3 linked regions of the Homo sapiens genome follow. The protein of the gene in region 2 purifies or fractionates together with the protein of the main gene of each other region. This does not show direct contact. Each region holds a gene or a part of one and is shown on either strand. Other genes may lie near its edges. The genes, in order: ETFB, IVD and PGD.

The links.
Region 1: the proteins of IVD (region 2) and ETFB purify together in Homo sapiens (affinity purification with western blotting; one study listed by BioGRID and IntAct). This does not show direct contact.
Region 3: the proteins of IVD (region 2) and PGD fractionate together in Homo sapiens (co-fractionation; one large-scale study listed by BioGRID). This does not show direct contact.

What each region holds. Positions count from the first base shown.
Region 1 is NC_000019.10:51,349,262-51,352,916, reverse strand, and holds part of ETFB (electron transfer flavoprotein subunit beta), read left to right. Parts: intron 1-2,525; coding exon 2,526-2,588; intron 2,589-3,655. UniProt on the Homo sapiens protein: Heterodimeric electron transfer flavoprotein that accepts electrons from several mitochondrial dehydrogenases, including acyl-CoA dehydrogenases, glutaryl-CoA and sarcosine dehydrogenase.
Region 2 is NC_000015.10:40,415,746-40,418,907, forward strand, and holds part of IVD (isovaleryl-CoA dehydrogenase, mitochondrial isoform 1 precursor), read left to right. Parts: intron 1-332; coding exon 333-437; intron 438-544; coding exon 545-617; intron 618-2,384; coding exon 2,385-2,518; 3' UTR 2,519-3,162.
Region 3 is NC_000001.11:10,415,919-10,418,547, reverse strand, and holds part of PGD (6-phosphogluconate dehydrogenase, decarboxylating), read right to left. Parts: intron 1,562-2,629; coding exon 1,431-1,561; intron 1,173-1,430; coding exon 1,039-1,172; intron 1-1,038. UniProt on the Homo sapiens protein: Catalyzes the oxidative decarboxylation of 6-phosphogluconate to ribulose 5-phosphate and CO(2), with concomitant reduction of NADP to NADPH.

The sequences.
Region 1 (3,655 bases), on a different chromosome or scaffold from region 2:
GTGGTTTACGCCTGTAATCTCAGCACTTTGGGAGGCCGAGGCCAGTGGATCACTTGAGGTCGAGAGTTTGAGATTAGCGTGGCCAACATGGTGAAACCCCATCTCTTCTAAAAATATAAAAATTAGCCGGGTGTGGTATCACCTGCCTGTAATCCCAGCTACTTGGGAGGCTGAGGCATGAGAATCACTGGAACCTGGGAGGCGGAGGTTGCAGTGATACAAGATCGCACCACTGCACTCCAGGCACCACTGCACTCCTGCCTGGGAGCAGAGCGAGACTCTGTCTCAAAAAGAAAAAAAGAAGAAAGATCCTTTTGGGTGAGTTTAGAGGCTGGGAGGCCGAGGTGATGGTCACATGGGGGAGAATGAGGCCTCAGCCAAAGGTGACAGGACAGAGCAGAGACATGATGTGGCAGGAGAGACTGGGCTTAGCATGGGGAGGGAGGGCAGGGAGGAGGCAAGGACAGTGCCTGGGTCTGCCTTGGTAACACAGGTAGGAAACCCAGGAAGAACAGGAGGTTAGAGGAGGATCCTACAAGGGGAGTGTGAAGAGCCCAGGAGACATCGATGCAGGTTCAGGAGACAGGCCTGGGCTTGAAACAAAGACTTGAGAATTTTGGAGGGCACTGGGGAGCTATGGGAGTTCTATGAGCAGAAGAGGGGTGGGATCAGCACTAGGTGCAGAAAGAGCCCCCCTGGGCTTTGAGAATGGACTGGAATGGGAAATTGGAGGCCAGGAGTTAGGGAAGGAGGTTAGGGCTGGGTGAGGACCCGACCAGAACCTTCCCTGCCACACTGGTGCTCCCCACTGAGATAGGGGTACATGGAGCTCATCTGTTCCCCCAGGAGACCCTCGGGCACCACCTCTGCTCAGGGGTAGCTCATCTCATTTGAGGGCAAACCTCATGGCCTCAACCAGGGAAGGGGCAGAAGAGGGACGTCAGAAGAGCCACAGGCAGATGGGAGTGAGAAGAGGCAGGGAATTAGGGATGAGGCTGAGAAGGAAGGCCAAAGACTGCAAGGTATGTCAAGCAGAGCACGGAGACAGCAGAGCACAGCAGGCTCAGGTAGAGCTGGGGCCCCCGGAGAGAGATGGGGATCCCAGGGCCAGGTCAGTTCTGGGACAAAGAGGAGGCTGATGGGTCCAGGTAGGTCACTGGGTGTCCTGCCCAGCCCTGAGAAAGTCAGAAGAAAACAGAGAGAGATTATCAACAGCAGGGGCATCAGAGTACAGATCAGTCAACTGTGGCCGAAGGGCCTACCCGGAGAACAGGCCAAAAAGGCAGGGCCTGGGTGGGGCTGCAGAGGCCGAGGTGCTGGAAGCATGGCCTTTGCAGCCCCCTGCATTTGCTGGTCGTTCTCAGACTCCGATGTCCTACCTGTCCTGGGCCAGGGACAGTTCCTGGGGCCAGGGCCTCCAGCTGGGGAAATGCCGGATGAACTGGTCAGGATGCTGTTTGTTCTAGGAAGCAGATTCACAACTCAAACTGGCTTAAGCCAGAAAGCGAATTTATTATCTCACGTAAATCAGGGGCTTCAGGCACAGCTTGATCCAGGGTCACATATGAGCTGTAGGCTCCCCTCTACCTTGTCTTCACTGTCTGCATCTCCAGGCTCAGATCCCACCAGCCCAGTGACCCCAGCAGAAAGAAAGGAGCATCTTTCCCAAGGGCCCCAGCAAACTCCCAGGGCTGACTCTTCTTTGGTGCAGCTTGAGTCATGTGCCCCTCCCTGAACCAATCACTGGGCTGGGGCTAGAATGTCCTTGCTGGCCCAGACCCTGTTCATGCAGCTGCCCAGGGGCCACATAGGGTGGGACTCCTGAGAGGCTTTATACAGAGGGCAGAGACTTGACGACAGGGATGCCAGGTGGCCCCACATGTCCCTGGACAAGTGGCTGCTTATCTCTGGGCCCAAGTGAGGGGATCGTTCTAGACCAAAAGTCAGTGAACTATGGCCCAGAGCGACCTCTGATTTGTAAATAAAGCTTTATTGGAACATCACCACATACATTCATTTACATATTATTTATGGCTGCCTGTGTGCTACAACAGCAGCGCTGAGTCACCGTGACAGAGACCGTATGACCTGCAGAGCCTGAGATATTTACTACATCTGTTCCACCATAGAAAAGGTTTGCCAACCCGACTGGCTGCGGTGACTCATGCCTGTAATCCCAGAGCTTTGGGGGATCATCTGAGGTCAGCAGTTCAAGACCAGCCTGGCCAACATGTTGAAACCCTGTCTCTACTGAAAATACAAAAATTAGCTGGGCGTGGTGTTGGGTGCCTGTAATCCCAGCTACTCAGGAGGCTGAGGCAGGAGAATTGCTTGAACCCAAGAGGCGGAGGTTGCAGTGAGCCAAGATTGTACCATTGCACTCCAGCCTGGGTGACAGAGCAAGACTCCGTCTCAAAAAGAAAAAAAAGAAAGAAAAAGTTTGCCAACCCCTGTTCTAGACAGAGGCCTGAATGGTCCATGAGCTCCACTGATTGTCATACAGTCTTCTGTCTCTCCCCATTCAGGCCATCGATGATGACTGTAACCAGACAGGGCAGATGACAGCTGGATTTCTTGACTGGCCACAGGTGAGACTGGAGTGGGGAGCACCTGCTGAGGGCCAGGCCCTCATCCCTCAAACTTCATTTCTGCCTCAAGGCCTTTGCATTTGCTGTTCTCTCCTCCTGGAACACTGTTCCCTCGGATTGCCTCATGGCTTTCTTGTTCCCCTCCTTGAGGTCTCTGCTGAGGTATCACCTCTTCAAAGGGGCCTTCCTTGCCATCCTACGTGAAATACTCATGCCCACCCGCTCAACTCTAGGTTCCCCAGTCCCCATCTCTGCCAGTCCAATAGAAATGCAGGCTGGGGCCAGGCATGGTGAGTCATGCCTGTAATCCCAGCACTTTGGGAGGCCGAGGCAGGTGGATTACTTGAGGTCAGGAGGAGTTTGAGACCAGCCTGGTCAACATGTTGAAACCTCGTCTCCACTAAAAATTTAAAAATTAGCTGGGTGTGGTGGCGTGCGCCTGTAGTCTCAGCTACTCAGGGGGCTGAGGGAGAATTGCTTGAACTTGGGAGGCGGAGGTTACAGTGAGGCAAGATCGCACGCCACTGCACTCCAGCCTGGCAACAGAGGGAGGCTCCGTCTCAAAAAAAGAAAAAAGAAATGCAGGCTTGGCACAGTGGCTCACACCTGTAGTCCTAGCACTTTGGGAGGCCACGGTGGGAGGATTACTTGAGCCCAGGAGTTCGAGACCAGCCTTGGCAACATAGTTAGACCCCATCTCTACCAAAAAAGAAAAGTTAGCTGGGTGTGATGGCACATGCCTGTAGTACCAGCCTCAGGAGGCTGAGGTGGGAGGATCCCTTGAGTTCAGGAGGTCAAGACTGCAGTGAGCTGTGATCATACCACTGTACTCCAGCCTAGGTGAAAGAGGGAAACCCTGTCTCAAAAGAAAAAAAAAAAAAGAAGCAAGGCACATAGACAAATTTAAAATTTTTCACAGCTACATAAAAAAGTAAAAAGAAACAGACAAAATTATATTTTATTTCACCCCATTATATCTAAAATATTATTTTAACATGTAATCAACATAAAAATATTAAGATACATATGCTCTACAAGCAATGGGGTTACGTCCTGATAAATCCATC
Region 2 (3,162 bases):
GCAGAAGGGAAAGAGGTTGCTATTTGTAGTTAGACCTTCTGGTCCGAAGAAGCTGCTGGAAGGTAATAAGCATTGGAGTAAATGGTGCCTTGGGAGCCATGCCTTTCGGAGGCAGTGATGGCCACTTCGGGGTGTCATGCGGGCTGTGGAACAGCCACTCTGTGGCCCTAACTCCCACACCTGCCCCCATCTCCATCATCCTGAGTAAATCCCATCTCCTCTCCATGCCCCTGCTTCCTCATCCTTGGCTGTCTTGTTGCCATTGCTGACCTGCTTTTGGTAACTGAGAGAGTGTTCCAGCATGTTGACCTGTGACATCCCTTTGTGCCCAGTTGATGCAGGGGAAGATGGCTGACATGTACACCCGCCTCATGGCGTGTCGGCAGTATGTCTACAATGTCGCCAAGGCCTGCGATGAGGGCCATTGCACTGCTAAGGTGAGGGCCAGCCTCAGTCGGGGAGAGGCGGGGGCAGTGGACCAGCTGCTGAGACTTGCTGTCTGCGTGCCTCGCAGGGCCCTGCTGACCCCAGCTTCCTCCCGTAGGACTGTGCAGGTGTGATTCTTTACTCAGCTGAGTGTGCCACACAGGTAGCCCTGGACGGCATTCAGTGTTTTGGTGAGTGATCCCCACTTCCCAGTCCCGGGGCTCCCTCACTCCTGGGGCCTGTGGCTGCTTCAGAAAGCAGTTTCAGGGCGGGCGTGGTGGCTCACACCTATAATCCCAGCACTTTGGGAGGCCGAGGTAGGCAGATCACCTGAGGTCAGGAGTTCAAGACCAGCCTGGCCAACATGGTGAAACCGCATGCCGGGCATGATGGTGCATGCCTGTAATCCCAGCTACTTGGGAGGCTGAGGCAGGAGAATCGCTTGAACCCGGGAGGCAGAGGTTGCAGTGAACAAAGATTGCACCATTGCACTCCAGCCTAGGTGACAGAGCGAGAGGCTGTCTCAAAAAAAAGCAATTTCCTCTCCACTTCTCCACTCCTCACTATGTGCTTATGCTAGGCCCAGCTGAGCTGGGACCTTCGGGCTCTTTCTGTCCCAGTTACAAGGAGGAAATGGAAAGCAAATGAGAAAACTGCTAGATGCCAGGAGTTGCTGCTGCCTTCGGCAACACCCCCCTCTCATCCTCCCCGCCTCATAGATGCTAGGAAATGGGAAAGGGAGATGTGGCTGGGCACAGTGGCTCACACCTGTAATTCCAACACTTTAGGAGACTGAGGCCAGTGAATCACCTGAGATCAGGAGTTTGAGACCAGCCTGGCCAACATGGTGAAACCCTGTTTCTACTAAAAATACAAAAAAAAATTAGCCAAGTGTGGTGGCAGGAGCCTGTAATCCCAGCTATTTGGAAGGCTGAGGCTGGAGAATCTCTTGAACCCAGGAGGCGGAGGTTGCAGTGACCGGAGATCGCGCCATTGCACTCCAGCCTGAGTGACAAGAGTGAAACTCCGTCTCGGAAAAAAAAAAAAAAAAAAAGGCCGGGCACGGTGGCTCACACCTGTAATCCCAGCACTTTGGGAGGCCGAGGCAGGTGGATCACCTGAGGTCAGGAGTTCGAGACCAGCCTGACCAACGTGGTGAAACCCCATCTCTACTAAAAATACAAAAATTAGCTGGGTGCAGTGGTGCGCGCCTGTAATCCCAGCTACTCAGGAGGCTGAGGCAGGAGAATCACTTGAACCTTGGATGCGGAGGTTGCAGAGAGCCAATATCATGCCACTGCACTCCAGCCTAGGCCACAGAGCATGACTCCAAAAAAAAAAAAAAAAAAGCTAAATGGAAATTTCTAGAAATAGTTCATAAGTTTCAAATCCACACCATCCTGAATAGCTTGAAGTGTTGTGCCATGCTGCTCTGTCATGTTTGGTACGTGAATCGTCCCTTTGTGCAGCCTATCTATGCTATGTGGGCTACCTGCCCGTTAGTAGTCACCTAGGGTATCCAATCAGCTGTCCTGATATCAGAGTGCCTGTGTTCAAGTAACTCTTATTTTGCTCAGTGGCCCCAGATTGCAAGAGTAGTGATGCTGGCATGTCATAATAGTTCTATTTTAGTATTTGTTATTATTGTTGATCTGTTACTATGCCTAGCTCATAAATTAAACTTTCTCATAAGTATGTATGTATAGGGAAAAAAACAACATATATATGGGGTTCGGTACTATCTACGGTTTCAGGCATCCACTGGGGTCTTGGAATGTATCCTCCAAGGATAAGGAAGGACTAGTGTATTCCCCACACCCCTCCCTCTTGCTACCTTTTGCTGCTTTTCTTTAATCACCCTCTCCTCCTGTGGCCTGTTTCTATATACTTGGCATTCTGTTTGCTTTCTTTGTTTTGTCAATCACTTCCTTTCTTCTCTGCCCAAACCCTGGTTGCAGGTGGCAATGGCTACATCAATGACTTTCCCATGGGCCGCTTTCTTCGAGATGCCAAGCTGTATGAGATAGGGGCTGGGACCAGCGAGGTGAGGCGGCTGGTCATCGGCAGAGCCTTCAATGCAGACTTTCACTAGTCCTGAGACCCTTCGCCCCCTTTTCCTGCACCTAGTGGCCTTTCTTGGGAAGTAGAGATGTGGCGGCTTTCCCACCCTGCCCACAGCAGGCCCTCCTGCCCAGCTGCTCTTGTCAGCCCTCTGGCCTCTGGATGAGGTTGAGTTCTCCACAACAGCTCCCAAGCATCATGGGCCTCGCAGCCGGGCCTGTGCCACGGCTAGTGTTGTGTGATTTAAAATGGACTCAGCAGGAAGCATATTGTCTGGGGATTGTTGGGACAGGTTTTGGTGACTCTGTGCCCTTGCTCTCTAACTTCTGAGCCCACCTCCCAGGGTAGGCACCTGGGGGCATGCAGGTGCCCACCTCCCAGGGTAGGCACCTGGGGGCATGCAGGTACCCACCTCTTTCTCTTGGGTGAGGCTCTGGCAAGGAGATCTCTCTGCTCAAGCACAGCAGAATCATGGCCCCTCTCCATGAATTGGAACTTGGTACAGGTTAAGTATCCCTAATCCTGAAATCTGAAACACTTGTGGTTCCAAGCATTTTGGATAAGGCAAATTCAACTTTCAGTCTCTTTTCTGGGGGAAAAAAATAATAAACCTAGCCTAGCCAGGCGTGGTGGCTCATGCTTGTAATCCCAGCACTTCAGGAGGCTGAGATGGGT
Region 3 (2,629 bases), on a different chromosome or scaffold from region 2:
GCCTCGGCCTCCCAAAACGCTGGGATTACAGGTGTGAGCCACCGCGCCCGGCCAAATGCAATGAATCTTAACTCTAACAGGGAAGTAAGCTGGAAGCCGATGTATACCCTAGTGAAACAAAGTTACATTTCTCATTTCTTCAAGCTGTTAACCCTTTTCCTGTTTAGAAAAAAAGTGCAGCTCGCTGCCAGCGCTCATTTAATTTTACATAAACACGCTTTTTGAGGCTGAAGAAAATCTGACGATTTTCAATATGAAAATAAAATATAAAAACTATTCTTGGCGTTATTTCTAAAGAGAACTAATATTAGAATCATCTGAATCACCAGAATCATCTACTTCAGAAAAATCAGATTCATCAAATGAATCTTCAGCCAACATGAGAACGATGTAACGTCATGTGTAGAAATGCTACGTTTTCTATGATTTGGCATTTTCAATGAAAATACAGAGCAAAATTCCCAAGAGGCAAGGCCAGAGGGCACGATAGTTCACAGAAGTACTTTAAAAGGTGTAGTGTAGTAGGTGTAATGCGGAGCCGGGCGCAGTGGCTCACGCCTGTAATCCCAGCACTTTGGGAGGCTGAGGCGGGCAGATCACCCAAGGCAAGGAGTTCGAGACCAGCCTGGCTAACATGGTGAAACCCTGTTTCCACTACAAATACAAAAGAATTAGCCGGACATGGTGGCGTGCCCTTGTAATCCCAGTTACTTAGGACGCTGAGGCAGGAGAATCACTTGAACCCGGGAGGCAGAGGTTGCAGTGAGTCAAGATCGCATCATGGCACTCCAGTTTGGGCAATAAGAGCGAAACTTGGTCTCAAAAGAAAAAAAAAGGTGTAGTGTGGACAATCTAGTTACAGCAACTGAGGTACAGTGAAGAAGGGAACCACATAATCTAAGCCTATCTTGTGCCAGTGTCCAGTGATGGGGCTAAGTGCCCATCCCTGGAAACTGCTCAAGCTAAGTGTCCTAAGATCGCACTTCTGCACAGCCGTGTGAGTCCTTCCCGTCGGACCCTGGGCTGCCTCTCACTTACCTTCTAATGATGCAGCCCCCTCTCCACATCAGGGCGATGCCACCATAATTGAGAGTCCAGCCAAACTCGGTGGCTGCCTGCCTTAGCAGCATAAAGCCTTGAGCGTAAGAGATGATCTTGGAAGCGTAGAGTGCCTAAAGAGTGACACAGAGACCTACTAGGATTGCCATTAGGAGAGTGACCGCCTTATGTCTACCAGTCTTATTCTCATCAGCAGTGGAGATCCCAGAAGGGCCAATATTCTAGGAAAACATTGTAAGTCAAGATCCAAGTCAAGGCTGAACTTCATTCCACCTGCCATCCTGTGGCCTCGAGTGTTCTCCCACCACAACCCCCACCCCCACTGCCTTCCGCAGGACCAACAAAGACCACTGCCAGGGACTGTGTCCCACCTTCCGAATGTCCTCCAGGAATGATTTCTTATCACCATCAAACTGGAACTTCTGGGGACCCTTCAGCTTTTTGCTAGCTTGAATTCTCTCATCCTTCAGAGATGATAAGCACCGAGCAAAGACAGCTTCTCCTACATGGGGAGATCGGGAAGAGGAAACAGATTACTGTCAGGCCTCTGAGCCCAAGCTAAACTATCATATCCCCTGTGACCTGCATGTATACATCCAGATGGCCTGAAGCAAGTGAAGAATCACAAAAGAAGTGAAAATGGCTGGTTCCTGCCTTTACTGATGACATTCCACCATTGTGATTTGTTCCTGCCCCACCTTAACTGAGCGATTAACCTTGTGACATTCCTTCTCCTGGCTCAGAACCTCCCCAACTGAGCACCTTGTGACCCCTCGGCCCTGCCCGTAAGAGAAAAACCCCCTTTGACTGTAATTTTCCACTACCTGCCCAAATCCTATAAAATGGCCCCACCCCTATCTCCCTTCGCTGACTCTTCGGACTCAACCTGCCTGCACCCAGGTGATTAAAAAGCTTTATTGCTCACACAAAGCCTGTTTGGTGGTCTTTTCACACGGATGCGCATGAAAATTACCAAAGTTCGCACAGCAACCAGAAGAAAGGTGGAGCAGGAAAGTCTGTTTATACAAAGAGCTGAAAGTTTCAACCTTAGGCCACAAAAGTTGACATGGATCGGAAGGAACTTTTATAAGAAGCTCTAAACAGTTAATTTGATAACTAAAACTCTTAAGACAATCTTCCAATACAAACATGAGTATTCAATCACAAAGATTAACATGAAATTCAAAAGGGAGTTTTGAGGGAAAATGAAGAGATAGAAACCACTGTTATGGCTGGGCAAGGTGGCTAACACCTGTAATCCCAGCACTTTGGCAGGCTGAGGTGGGAGGATCACTTGAGCCCAGGAGTTCAAGGCTACAGTGAGCCATGATCACACCACTGCTCTCCAGCCTGGGCAACACAGTGAGACCCTGTCTCTAAAACCAGTAAAATAAAATAAAAACCACTGTTATGTAGAATACTCAGTGTTGGTCCATGAGTAAAATTTCAAATTCAATTTAGAGGACCTTAATTTTTTTTTTTGAAGATTTTACATTGATAAGTCACATTTACGGACTCACCTCTCAAAAAAATGTTAGGTTTTTATATTTTACGGTTTTCAGTATAGCCG